Homo sapiens: one gene and its partner. The protein of the gene in region 2 purifies or fractionates together with the protein of the main gene of each other region. This does not show direct contact. Each region holds a gene or a part of one and is shown on either strand. Other genes may lie near its edges.

What was found. Proteins that work in one complex are often made in the same cells at the same time.
Region 1: the proteins of VPS50 (region 2) and VPS54 purify together in Homo sapiens (affinity purification with mass spectrometry; 3 studies listed by BioGRID and IntAct, with this or other methods). This does not show direct contact.

Annotation. Positions count from the first base shown.
Region 1 is NC_000002.12:63,911,419-63,918,453, forward strand, and holds part of VPS54 (vacuolar protein sorting-associated protein 54), read right to left. Parts: intron 5,546-7,035; coding exon 5,482-5,545; intron 2,870-5,481; coding exon 2,764-2,869; intron 2,508-2,763; exon of another isoform or gene 2,407-2,507; intron 1,893-2,406; coding exon 1,805-1,892; intron 1,244-1,804; coding exon 1,122-1,243; intron 1,008-1,121; coding exon 927-1,007; intron 1-926. UniProt on the Homo sapiens protein: Acts as a component of the GARP complex that is involved in retrograde transport from early and late endosomes to the trans-Golgi network (TGN).
Region 2 is NC_000007.14:93,354,365-93,361,399, forward strand, and holds the end of VPS50 (syndetin), read left to right. Parts: intron 1-1,526; coding exon 1,527-1,716; intron 1,717-3,952; coding exon 3,953-4,072; 3' UTR 4,073-6,759; downstream 6,760-7,035.

The DNA of each region.
Region 1 (7,035 bases), on a different chromosome or scaffold from region 2:
GTCAGAGACCCTTTCCAGGAATCTGGGAAGTAAAAGCCGCTTTCATAATAATATTATTAATAAGATGCTATTTATCTATTTTACTCTCATTCTCTCATGATTGAACAGTGGGGATTTTTAGATGACTTGTGATATCATTATTCTGAAGGCTAATAGAATATGTGTTTGGGTAGTCTTGTGTGTGAGTGAATGGACACCACTTTATCTTGCCCTTTTGATTCTTATGTACCTGCTGTTCCTGCCATTTCGGAATCTGAAGGATGCAAGTAGGATAAAAAGCAAATCAAAGTTCTTTGCTATTAAGGTTATTCCAAATATGATCTTGGACAGACAGTATACACTGAGTAAACTTTCAGACTTTCAAGTTACGAAATTTTGGCTTTCCCACTAAGACGTGAATTGAAAAACTTAGGGAAAGTAAACAGTGAAAGATAGATCAAGCGTGATTGGGGCTGACTAAATGATATTTTTCTGAAGATACTCTCCCAGTATAACTGCGAATTCTTTGGGGAACACTGCTTCATTTAATGACATATTGGGAATGAAAAACAAACAAGAAATGAATGTTGAAATGAATTAACATAAAAATACTTCTGCATAGGATTTCTACCATCCTTAGAATCATCTCTCCTACTCCTGCCAGCCCCTTAGAATATCAACTGTTTTGGAAATCCGAAAATTTTGTTGAGTTGTTTTCTAAACCCTGAATAATTTGTTAGATAACTGCAGGTTAGACCACTATGGGGGGTCTTGGTCACAGCACATGGTCACATTTTCCTGAAAAAAAATTTAAAATTCTACTAATTGGTAAATATCCTATGAAAGTTTAGATTATCTTTTCACATCTTAATTTATAAAGTACTCCTTATAAAATAGAAAATCATAATGTCTTTGAACAAAGTCTAATAATTTCTATAAATCATTACCTTAGATAACAGCTTGTCAAATAAGCTATCCATTATCGCTACAAGCTTAGCTGATATTTCAGCTATGTGATCATGGTAGTCCTGCAATGAGAAATGATAATTGTATTTTTAAGTCCCTGGGACACATTTTTAAAATACTTAACAATTAAGGATCTAAACTTATGAAACGCCAATAGAAAATATATGAAAAAGTACCTTAGTGATATGATCAAAATGCCTAAGCATGCTATATTGCTTAGGTGGTAGTCGAGCTTCAAAATGAGCCCGGATCACAGGAATGTAGTGCACAATTAACTGCAAACATCGTGAAGAAAGAGCTGAAGATCCAGGGAGTAGATATATAATGGAGAAATAAAAAAAAAAAAGGTATTAGTTGATTTTAATTACAAATCAAATCAAATAAAAAACATCACTTATAAAGAACCAGTTTATTTCATAAACGAAGAGCCCTATGGCAGAAGGCAACATATTTCATTTTGTCTAATAATTTGATACTGAATAATGTAATGAACATGCTGCTTTCACAAAGGACTCAAGTTGTGAGTATTATCAGTATCACAATAACAAGACAACTGATTCTCTTATGACATTCAGATAGCTTTCACCCCCAAATACTTTATACACATTATATCTTAATATTTTCTAGAGTGGTGTAACTTCCAAGTAACTTATACTTGGAGGGGAAATGCATCGTAACCTTTTCCCCATGGTTAGTTTTTTTCAGTGATGAGTATACATAAAAGAGTAAGTAGCATTTATTTTTAGAGTAATGCCACTTTGGTTAGAGCCATGAAAACATGAGGTATAAAAAAACATGATGAGAACAGTGACATCACTGTTAACACTTCAGCAAGTGAATTAAACGCAAGAATCCATACCCAAATTTTTTGTAGTTATCGTTTTTAGTCCAACAACTTGCAGTGCACCAGCTCCAAGAACTAACTGGCAACTTCTTGAATTGAAGTACTAACAAAAGAAGGAGAAAAAAACCCCAAAATTTACTAAAAACTGTTCTTTATATCCTGGCAATGTGCTATTATAAAAATACATTCCCCTTTCCTCTCATTCAATGGCCAAATGAATTATCTAGTAGAAGCAATTAGTATCTATTTATTTAATGAAAAAGAAATGAGAAGGGGAGATTCTAAATGATAATATTTACTGATAAGAAAAAAGTTGAAAAATTCTAAAAATCAGTTCGCAGAAATTAATCTTTAATTTGCATGTACAAAACAAATTCGGTTTCAGTCATTCTTGTTGGGAAGTCCTATTTTCAAAAGTTATAAAAATCTGTCTTGGCTAAAACATGACAACTCAAGTCAGAACATAATTAACAGATTAGAGGTTTGAAAAAAATAATAAAGCATTTCCTCCGTACTGGTAGTTTAAAATATCTCAATATGAAATGGCTGAATAAAATCATCACATTTTCATTTTATATCAATGGTTCTGAAAGAATGATGCAAGAAAAATCTCTAACCTTAGTGAGATGAATTTTGTAAAGTTCAGTGAATTCCTTCCATGCACATTTGAAGCCAGTCCAGGTTTTTTGACCTAAGTGGCCTCAGTCATGTTCAGCACCTAACGAACAAATCATCTCCTGTCTCCAATGTCATTAACAACTCTATGGGTGAATGAGGATCACTAACTGTGGAGTAAGAAGGAAGCAGGCAGCCTGTTTCCAATAACATGTTGTGATTCAACCACAATCAAATGTTATAAAACTAATGTCTTAAAGTTAATTTGACCTTGAAATGTCTTTGAGTTAAGATTAGTCACACCCTAATGTATTAATTCCTCGAAAAATTTTTCCATAATGGAGTGAAGTCATACATACCTTCAATAAATCTGACAGACGAGTAAGCATGTCAGTAGTAACAGATGGGATGTTATCCACACACTGGCAATATTCAAGGATAATTCTTATTAACAGCAATACGGTTCTACAAGAAAAGAAAAATGGCCCAATAGGAAATCAAAACAAGAAAAATCAAAAGGATTTGGCATATAAAAATCAAATTACTTAATGGCACAAAGGATCTCTGAGAATATAATGACCTTGGTAACTATGTTAAAGTATGCATTTTACCTACTAGTACAGCAGGTTCTTGACTAACACAAGACAAGAGAGGTGTCTAGAATGCAAAATTTAAAGAGGCTCTTACTCTGTGCAATTGCAGGATCAGCTTGCACAACACTGAGAATGAGTGGCTCCTTAAATTCTGTACAACAGGCATAATACTCTCTGTATGGCATTCTTATTAAGTAAGGGAGTCGCTTCAGTAAGACAGGTATTGCATTCATTAGCCAATTCAGAAACACTGACAAAAAGCCTATCCAGTGTTTCTGATTACCAACATAGTAGGTCCTCCATCATAACTAATGAATTGATGAAGAAAACCTAGTCCAGATTTTCTTAGTGAGATGGAAAAAAAAAAAATCTATAATGGCTTCTAAGGAAAACATGTCTCCTAAGAATTTTATTGGTAGGTCACAAAAGGTTCTCTGGCTGGGCGCGGTGGCTCACACCTGTAATCCCAGCACTTTGGGAGGTCAAGGCAGGCAGATCACTGGAGGTCGGGAGTTCGAGACCAGCCTGACAATGGAGAAGACCAGCCTGACAGTGGAGAAACCCTGTCTCTATTAAAAATTCAAAATTAGCTGGGCGTGGTGCTGCACATCTGTAATCCCAGCTACTGGGGAGGCTGAGGCAGGAGAATCGTTTGAACCTGGGAGCCGGAGGTTGTGGTGAGCTGAGATCATGCCATGGCACTCCAGCCTGGGCAACAAGAGCAAAGCTCCGTCTCAAAAAAAAAAAAAAAAAAAAAAAAAAAGTTTTCCGAAGATGATAAAGTTATCACCTCCATAGAAGGACAAATCACACGTTAAAAAGACACACTACTGGGAAGTTAAAGAAGATTGAAATTAAGGAGAAAGCCATTCATCATAGGATATCTAAGTTCAATGACATGCTCAGAAATAAGATCTACGTAAAATAAGGATTTATAAGAGCCTGAAAGATATCAGGAACTAATGATTCAAGAAAGATGGTGTCTAGCCTTTATAACACCTTGTCAGACCATATATGCATACTGGTCTCTATGCTTATTTCTCCTAGAGTCTGCCTAAATGAGCATGAGTCCATTGCTTATCTTTTGTAATTGTCTCTCAGAAGTTGTAATAGTTCCCCTTTAGCCAGGGAATTTAGTTTTTTGGCAACAGACTCTCTGCCTAAAGAGCCAAAAGCAAGATGGCCAGAGGGGACCATATCCATCAAGCAAGTGAAGAGTGACCAGATAACCAGTAGTTAAGGAGGGAAATCATAATTATATTGAAGGGATGGGATTACAGGAAGACTGAAGAAAGCTTTCCCTACCAGAAACAGGGAAGGACTTCAGAAGAGAAAAGAATGGAGGCTTTAGTTTAGAATGTGTGGACTTCAGGTATTTGAATACAGATACAGAAAAAGGATTAATTCTATACATACTTTTTGAGTGCTTATTATGGTGCCAAGAAAAATAAAAACGGTAAGACCTCATCTCTACCTTTGAGGAATTCAGAGTCAAATTAGAAGACATATACATAAATAAACAATTCTATTATACTACGGTAAGTGCCATGATTGAGGAACATAGAATTACATTCTTCCTGGAGGTGGTGGTCATTTCAAAAAACACTTGACAAGAAGAAAAGTGAAAAAGAATGCTGGGCTAGATATTGGCAGTTAGACCTAGATTTGAATTCTGGCTCCATTTGGGTCACTTGAACCACTTAATCTTCTAAGCTTCAATTCTCATAGTGGAAAAAGGAAAGAATAATCCCCAATATCTTTATTTTACAATGTAGTTGTAAAGATCAAATGAGATCACATATATATGAAAACACTTAAGCTGTGAAGTACTGTTAAAGCATATGAAGATATATTTTAATTACCAATTTAATAAAAGACATAGTACTAGACAAAAAAAGATGGAATTTGTATGCTTCTTAGTTAACTTGAATTTGAGATACTTTTATTGGTAAAAGATCTAGTGAATCAAATGATGCCAATGAGAATAACTACCAACAACTATCAACTTATTAGGTGCTAGACCTGTGCTAAATGCTTTACATGAATTACTTAATTTTCGCAATAATTCTGTGTATAGTACTATTTTCCACATTGTGTGGGTTCCAGAGTTCACAACTTAAACTATTATGCTATAATACATTCTAAGAAAGCAACAGAAGAAAAGATAGAAAGAGCCTGGGATAGCAATAATATCATGGATCCACTACAATTACTCTTGGGTTGTCTAGATTTCTTGTTATATGAGAAAAATCAAGCTTTTTGTGTTAAGCCAGTGCAGTCCTTAATAATGTATGCTACAGAAGAGAGAAGATAAAGAAATCCATAAAGTTTCCTTTAAGTTCTTTGCAGGATTTAAAACAGTTAATCCAAATTTAACACTGTTAAAACTGTTAATCCAAAATTTCCAATTCACTTCAAGGGAGAACTAGAAGACTTGTGTTTTAAATAGTTGACTCAACTACTAAAGAAAAATGTGTCACTCACCCAACAACTGCATACTGTTGTCCCTCGACAATAAGAACTTCAGCTGGTTTCCTTTCTTCTGTGGCTACAGAGTTAAGCAAATAAACGAGAGACAAGAGTACCAGACGAAACAAAATAGAGAAAAAGCTGAAGAAGATAATTCCTGTTTAAGGCCAAAAACTCTCATTTCTGAAAATAAACATCTACTTCCTGGGAAACTATTTGGCACACAGTAAATAAAGTATACTGGAAGTTGGAGAGATTTGGATTTGAGTACCAGTACTACCAATTACTGGATACATGACTTTGGGGCAATTATTTAACCTCTTTGAGTATCACTATCTGTATCTATTAAATGTGAACAACAATATCTTTCAGGGTTGTTGTTAATGGTAGAAATAATTATCACAAACTGCCTATCCCTTAGGGCTGGCACAAGGTAAATGATCAGCAAATAGTTTTTTAAAAAGTTATTAGTTTTGGAAAGGCAGAACTAGCATTTAAATTGGTTGTCTTTACTATTATCATTATAGAATACAAGTTAATTTCTAAATTTGATGGAAAGATTATATATTTAATTTTTAATACTTCAACCCAGACGTTACTTTATTTTCAGCATGTGATATTTCTTTAAACAAAATTCAGCATATTGAGGTGAAAAGAACAGTGGACTGGATTTTATCCTGGACACGCCAAATTGATTAGATTACCATGGGCAGCTCATTATGCTTCCCTAAGCTTCAAATCCCTTTAGGATTTGTAAATATATTTGACTATTTGAGAGCTATATATATTGCAATCACAATTTACTATGTATGTCAGAAGTATATTTTTTGAGGTTAAGGACTGTGTCTTCATCACTTCTCTATATTACAGAGAAGTGGCATAGCATCGTAGAAAAGAGAAATGGCCCTAAAGTCAGTCTGCCTGGATTGGAATCCCAGCTCTACCACTTCCTAGCTATGTAACCTTAGACAAGTTGCTTAACCTCTTTGTGCCTTAGTTTCTAAATTTGTAAAATAGGAATACTAATAATATCTAGCTCATGGACCTGTAAATGAGATAACACATGTAAAATACTTAGAACAAAACAGTGTAAGTAAACACTCAATTAATATTAGCTGCTATCCATTAATCTTCATTTCCCCAATGCCTAGCTGAGTGGATAGTAACCCAATTAATTTATCATGGATAAATGGGTAATAATCCAGGATCCTTAACTTGAAAAGAACTAGTAAAATGTTAATGGACTTCTAATAGCATACACCTATGCTATTCAGAGAGGAAAACAAAGACTGAGATGAAGCAAGGTATGTAAAAGAAACCTCCTACCATCAATATCCTCCAAAGAAGTGAAAATAAGTAGTTCATGTTTCAAACAAAACACATGAGTAATTCAATTATTCCACATTTATGATTTTAATTCAGAAATCATTCTGTTTGCTTAACAGTGGAATCAAAAGACCATGAGCTGTTCAGGGACAGAAAACATATCCTAGTCATCTAGCACAGCACCTCACATAGAGGGAAGTCAATTAAATATAGCTTGAAAGACTAGATGAGTGATAAGTCTTA
Region 2 (7,035 bases):
CTCACTGCAGCCTCTCCCTCCTGGGCTCAAGCAATTCTTGTGCCTCAGCCTCCTGAGCAGCTGAAACTACAGGTGTGTGCCACCATGCCCACTAATTTTTTGTATTTTTAGTAGAGATGGGGTTTCACCATGTTGGCCAAGCTGTTCTTGATCTCCTGGCCTCAAGTTGATCCGCCCACCTAAGCCTCCCAAAGTACTGGGATTACAGGCGTGAGCCACCATGCCTGGTTATACTCCTGATTTCTGGTGGTAAAATCAGCCCTCGTAACCCTTATATCATCATTAATAATAATCACCATCATATCACTGTAAACTCTATAAATCTTTCATGTGTTGAAGTTATGGATCTATTAATAGTAATTTTCCCACTTACTCAGAGACCATGCTTACTCTGCCCATAACATCTAGGATACAAATAAGGATCAGTAATACATCTGAAATATCCCTGAGAAGCGAACAGCTATTTCAAAGACCCTGTACAGTGCTCTAGAATTGCACATCAGTTGAATATTCACACTATCATTTGTCTGATTTTTCTTTTGTTCTCATTTGTTATACAAAATAATGTATTAGAAAGTGGGAAGATGACAGTGACAAGCTGACAACAGTCGTGGCACTCTGTATTGAAACCAGCAGTGCTATAAATTATAAAAAGGCTGTGTCAGCAATCACGAATGAAGAGTATTTTAAATAAATTTGTTTAAGTCGAAATGTGAATAATATATGTAATACTTCTGTATAAAATACTCTTTTTTAAAAAAAAAAAAAAAAGCTTGGTCATTTTAAATAAAATAAGCTTTTATTTTCTTGCAACTTTCCTTAAGGTAAGTACCTCATTCCCACAGTTGAATTTTCCATGTTCTGTATGATTGATTGAAGAAATGAAACATTGACTTAATGAGCAATAAAGTGTTGTATTGTTAGGGTTTGTATATTTGTCTTTATTACTTAGTCCACCTTAAAACACACTGTTTCAGTAGTGTAGAATATCAGAATAGGTCTATAAGCTTTTTATCATGAAAAATATATATATACTTTCTATGCTTACATGCTTACACATTTCTTTATGTTTTCAGAGTGTTCATGGGAGAATTATTTCATTTGTTTCTTTTGCATTGCATTGAATATTGAACAGTTTTATAAAACTAAGATTACTTTGAAGTATTCAAAGCTTAGTTTTTATAAAGTAACTCTTGGCAGCCAGATTAACTGGAATACCAGTTTAACTTTCTTACAGACAATTATGTTGATTGAATACAGAGATCCGTGGTCTGTAGAACAACAAAGAGACTTGAACTCATTGGATCTCTTTGCAAATGAGAAAACTGAGGCCCGCATAGGTAAAATGACAGAGCACAAACACAACCCAGTCTTTCTGACTCAAGGCTTATGTTCTCTATTTCCTATAACCCTCTCATTTCTGGGGAATCTGTCCAAATATAGGTTAGAGAAAACTTCAAATACCTGACAGTTTTTTGTTTCTAATTATCCTATAATGTATTTTTTTTTATTGTTTTGCATCTTAGATATGCCAATGTCAAGAAATGCAGTAATGAGGGTCGTGCCCTGATGCAATTGGATTTTCAACAGTTTTTAATGAAACTTGAAAAACTAACAGATATTAGACCCATTCCTGATAAAGAATTTGTAGAAACTTATATTAAAGCTTATTACCTAACTGAGAATGACATGGAACGGTGGATCAAAGAGCACAGGGTGAGAGCTGGAAAATAGTTAATTAAGTTTTTATTCCTTTTTCTTTGTGCTGTTCTTGTTGGGTGTGTTATTTAATTCAAAATCATGAGAGTGAAATATAAAGAAACATTTGCTTTTTTAATACAAACTACTTAGGTCAATTCTTTGCCTTATTCAGATTAAGGGCACCGTATCTAAGCAGTGCCCTTTGACTCATCAAATCTTTTTCAGCCCTTTGTGAACTGTTACTGTAATGATCTAGAAATACAGCCAAAGCCAAGACATTAGCTATATTTTTCCTGCAACTGTGTTATAGGAAAAGGCTGAAGTTGATAAATACTGAGACAGATTGAATACAGAAACAATGAAATGATTCATAAGCCATAATCGATTATGTAACTTAAACCTTCTCATACAAACCTTCTCGTACTCCTCAACGATGAAATGGTAACATCCTACACACTGACACGTATTAGTGATGAGTGAAGACATTAATATTTAAATGGCTAAACTTAACTTACATCTTACATTAGATTTTACCTTTAATATAGATTTGATTATTTTTCTTTTGTATGACTATATAGATAACGAAAAATACTATTGTTACGTAGGATGCCGAATTTTTGACACAGTTCAACTCAGTGAGCTTGGTATGGGAAGCTTTTCTGTATATGGCATGTGTTAAAATTATCACCAAATCCTCATTGCTTTGATAACTCTAGGATTTACATTTTCTTAACCTATGAATGTCATGGGTAAAAGCTAAGTCAAGTTTTATTTCATTTGGGTAAGAAAATAATTATTTGTATATACCTGCTCAGACTCATCCTTTCTGGCCTTAACACTGTAAAGAGATAAAATGCATTAGCCTAGAACATTCACATTGGCGTGAATCTTGTGTGAATGTCCCCACTCTTACTCAGTTTCGGATCTTTAGAAGCAAAGTAGGAATGTATGTGTTATTTTTAATGAGTTCGACCAGTAAAGCCAGATTGAGAAAAACTTCACCACGTTTAGCCCCACTGACATTTGATAACCAAAATGTTAAACCTAGATGCAGATAGACTGCTTAATGTTGCTAGAATCCATTTAGTAAAGTAAGCTGTAAACACTTCTGGGTTGGTACTGAGGAAAGGGTTTTGGGAAAGAATACAAAGTAGCCAAGGAGGAAAGGCACAGCTCTATTCGATGCAAGAATGATGCCCGTTTTTTGAATTTCCTCTTTTAATATAGTAGACTGATTTTTTTTTAACTTAGTACTTTGAAAGAGCTTTAACTGATTGATATTTGTAATTCAGTGACATTTCCCCAGCAGCAGCAGGGACTCTTTTCTGTCTTTGAAGGAAACTTCCCACAATGATGAGTCCAGCGATCACTGACGATGGATCCTCACTGAATGCTGAGTGGTTAAATGAGATTACTTACCAGGCGGGGACAGGTGCTCTCAGAGATCAGATACACAAGCTGAGCAGTTTGCCAAGTTTTTAAAATCAATTCTTTCTCCTATTTTGAAATTGTACTATATTTAGTGGTTACCTTCAATAAAGACACATTTTCTTTTCTTATTAGATAATAGTACACAGCTGTCTTTCCCTATCTGAACTCTTGCTATTCAACCTCCAGTACCAAGTCAATCTGCAGAAATTTCTGATGAATCCCTGTTTATTCTCATCCTAGCAATTCAGTATCTAAAATTCAGGAACCAGATGGATTTGGATTGCGAAAGATACTCGTAGTCTTAATTTTATTTGCAGCTCCCTGACTTTGTGATCCTTGTTACCTTATTCATTTGTTGTATCTTAGAAGAGTTGTTCTTCTGTTGTTGGAGATTTTTTTTTTAACTAAAGTGTTTACAAAATGTAGAGGGCCAGAAAAATACTTCATCAGTAGCATTTAAAAAATTTGAAATGTCAGTGTATTTTGATGACTCAATAACAAAGACTATTACAGAAACAAGTGTAAAGTGTGTGATCATCAAAGCAGTAAGAAGCATACGCATGTCAGATTGCTTTGCCATATTAAAACAGATTCTAGTGCTTACTGTTTCAAATGTGTACTATAGTATTCTTATTCTCTCCTATTACAGCTCAGTAAACAATTTGCCTTCCATGTCCCAACTGTAATTTCCACTGTTTTTCACTGGTTTATAATGCTCAGTAACTATCCACTGCACCTGAATATCCGCCTGTTCTTTTGTTGCACTGATCAGATACATTCCTTTTAGGGTACTAAATTTGGATCTTTCTTCTTTGAGCAGGAATATTCAACGAAGCAGCTGACCAATCTGGTGAATGTTTGCCTGGGATCCCATATCAATAAGAAAGCAAGACAAAAACTTCTAGCAGCTATAGATGATATAGACAGACCTAAAAGATAATGAACACAGCTCTCTTTCCTCAATGGCATTGATCCTCACTCAACATATATGACCTGAAAGCCAGTTTTTTTATGCACTTCTGACAACTATCTGCTAAGAAAACTTTGTGCATGTTTTTTTGACTGGAAAGTGGAAAATATTGAAATGTGTGTGGTGTTCTCATGACTTTTATATGCTGTGGTCTCTTCAACTTTTGGTCTCATTTGTTGTAATCTGAAATGATGTTGCCGCCTTGTCATAACAATGGTTATGTGACTACAGTTATACATTTTACAGAAGAATGTACCATAAGTATATAATTAGAAGAACAGTGGCTTAATATATGTATGGGAAGTTTATGGAAAATGAAGTTGGCACTTTTCTACCCTCTGAGCTTGGTTCTTAATAAGCATAATGTGAGGGTGAATATGTAGTATCTCCTAATTATGAGCACTGCATGAGAATTAAAAAACACATGTAAGTAAAATAGTTGAAAAATCAGTATGTTCTCTGTTTTTAAAATGTCAAAGTTTATGTCAGGGTTAATTTAGTTATAACAAAGTGATCATAATGGTGAAATTTAATAAATATACTCTAGTATGATCAGCCTATGTGAGACTACATTTTGATTTTTTGTGTGGCATGCAGATGTCATGAACTATAGTGCAGCTTTTAGTGTGTTCTAATTTTAATTGTTTTATATCCTGAAACCAATGGTGAAAAGTAATTTCATTGAGGGTACCTTTTCAATGCCTGAGTAGCATACAGAATCATGATTATGAGACTTTCTTTTATCTTTCTTTATAAAAATATGTGGTTTTTTTGTTGAAAGTTTTGGTCTCTTTAAATTCAGATTTTGTCTTAGGACAGTAAAACCCAGGTTGACTGACTCAGGAAACAGTTGTCTGCTAGTCACTCATAAATGTACGGTCATATGTTCACTCTTCTTAAATATCCACCTTTTATAACACAAATGTAAAATAGTATCAGTCTAGCCAATGATGAACTCTGGAATCCACTTAGTCTTCAGTAAGTATGTGCTGTTCCTCTAAACTTTGCCCTGAAGCCAGGGATCTTCTCCTAATGTATGTGACATAAAAATCCATTTTCCATGTACTCTTGCCAACTGTCTGATAAGGAATTTTGTGTGTGTTCTTTCTGACTGGAGAGTGGAGGACATCTAAGCTTGTGTGGCATTGGTCCAATGATTGCCATGCATGACCTGTAACATCAACAGCTCACAGAATCCTAAGGAATCATGTGAGAAACAGGCCTTGGGTCTTATGAGTCTTCTGGGACCTAAGGTGATAAAATGGATGGCACAGAATGGCATGTGATCAAGCATGGAGGTGATAAGGAAACAATTGCTACTCTGTGTCCATCAGTCCCTGCGATGTCTGTAAATGCACAGTGTAATGTGAAGCACTTTCAGAATATGTTTGTGTGTGTCTGTATGCTGAGTGTTTTCTTTTCATCCTCTCATGTCGGAGTTCATTTACTGTCAATTTAAAACTTTCCTCTTGTAAAAAGGTATGAGTTTGGTGCCATTATGATTTGGTTGTGGCTAGATTATATACTTGTGAAGTAGATTCTGCCTGTAGCCATTATTTATATGCAGCCACTTGAAGAAAACAAACATGAGATAAGCTTGGTCCTTGAGTTTAAATGGCATATTTAGCTGGGCACATAAAGAGCTAATCAATCTTTTAAAATTTGCAGTTGATGAAGAGCTGCTTATTTTTCTCTTCTACATGGATTTTATAGTTGGTTTCCTTTAATTTCTACTTTAGTTGGCCCTAGATAATATGAACAGGAATCACCTGCCTGGTAGAGCCCAGTGTTTTCCAAGGTAATAGGAATTGATACAAAAGAATTACTTATCTTGTTAGAGACTCGACCATGCAATCTGACAGACCTTTTAACCTACCCTTACTTTGCTTTCTCCATCTTCAAAATGAAATGGTGGATCTTTTTAATGCTTTTTGAAAAAGGTTTTTTTTTTTTTTTTTTTTCATTAAAAGGTAGCTTAATAAGTGCTAGCTAGCATCAAAACAGTAACAGGAGGTTTGAGTCATGAAGTTACCTAATCACAAGAGAGTTACCAGACATTTCTCAAATACTTTATACAGTAATATTGAGTTATAACCATGTAACATTTTATGAAACTAATTTTCAGATAAATACAATTGAAAAGCTGAGAATGTAAATGGAATTATACGTGTTCCAAAAACTATCATTACCAAAAATTTATTATTTTTGAGTCTAAACTTTCCTTAACTTTGACATTTTCCATGAAAGTTTCCTGTAGAATTTACCATGGGAGCATGGTAAATTAGCATTCCCTGAGAAAGAATGATCATTTCTACAAATACATTGTCTTGCATTTAAAAATGCTAGGGGGGCACATAGCAATTCAAATGAACTAGTTTGCTTTGGTTTATAAAACCAACAGAGATTTTGTAAGTTCACTTTAACTAATAAACTCATTTACACAACTTATTAAATGAATTTCTCTTGAAACCAGGGCCATATGGTATTTTATCATATCTTTAAATAAAATTTCGAAATTTCTATTTAGCTGAGTGCTAAAGTGAAACTTTGTTAGATTAAATAGCTTTTTCTTAACTCACCAAAAAGTAGTAAAAGGCTTGTAATTCAATTCACCTTGTAAGCATAGTTGTCTTTTGTAATAAAAAACTAGATCTGAAGATGAATTGATGAATACAAGTTGTGCTCAAAGCACATAGAAGTACAGGGTGGGGGGGATTTCCATATATATACATATATATATATTATATATATATTTCTTTTTGGAATAATTTTGATTCGGATTAGTGGTTAACAAAATGATATTTAGCTTCTGACAATGATTAATGATGAGAATTATTAATAGTCTGGTATAATCTTTGTAAATGTTAAGACTGGTGCAGCTTTCTACAGATTTTTTCTTATTGTGGAAAATATTTGCTCAATTCCTATCATCC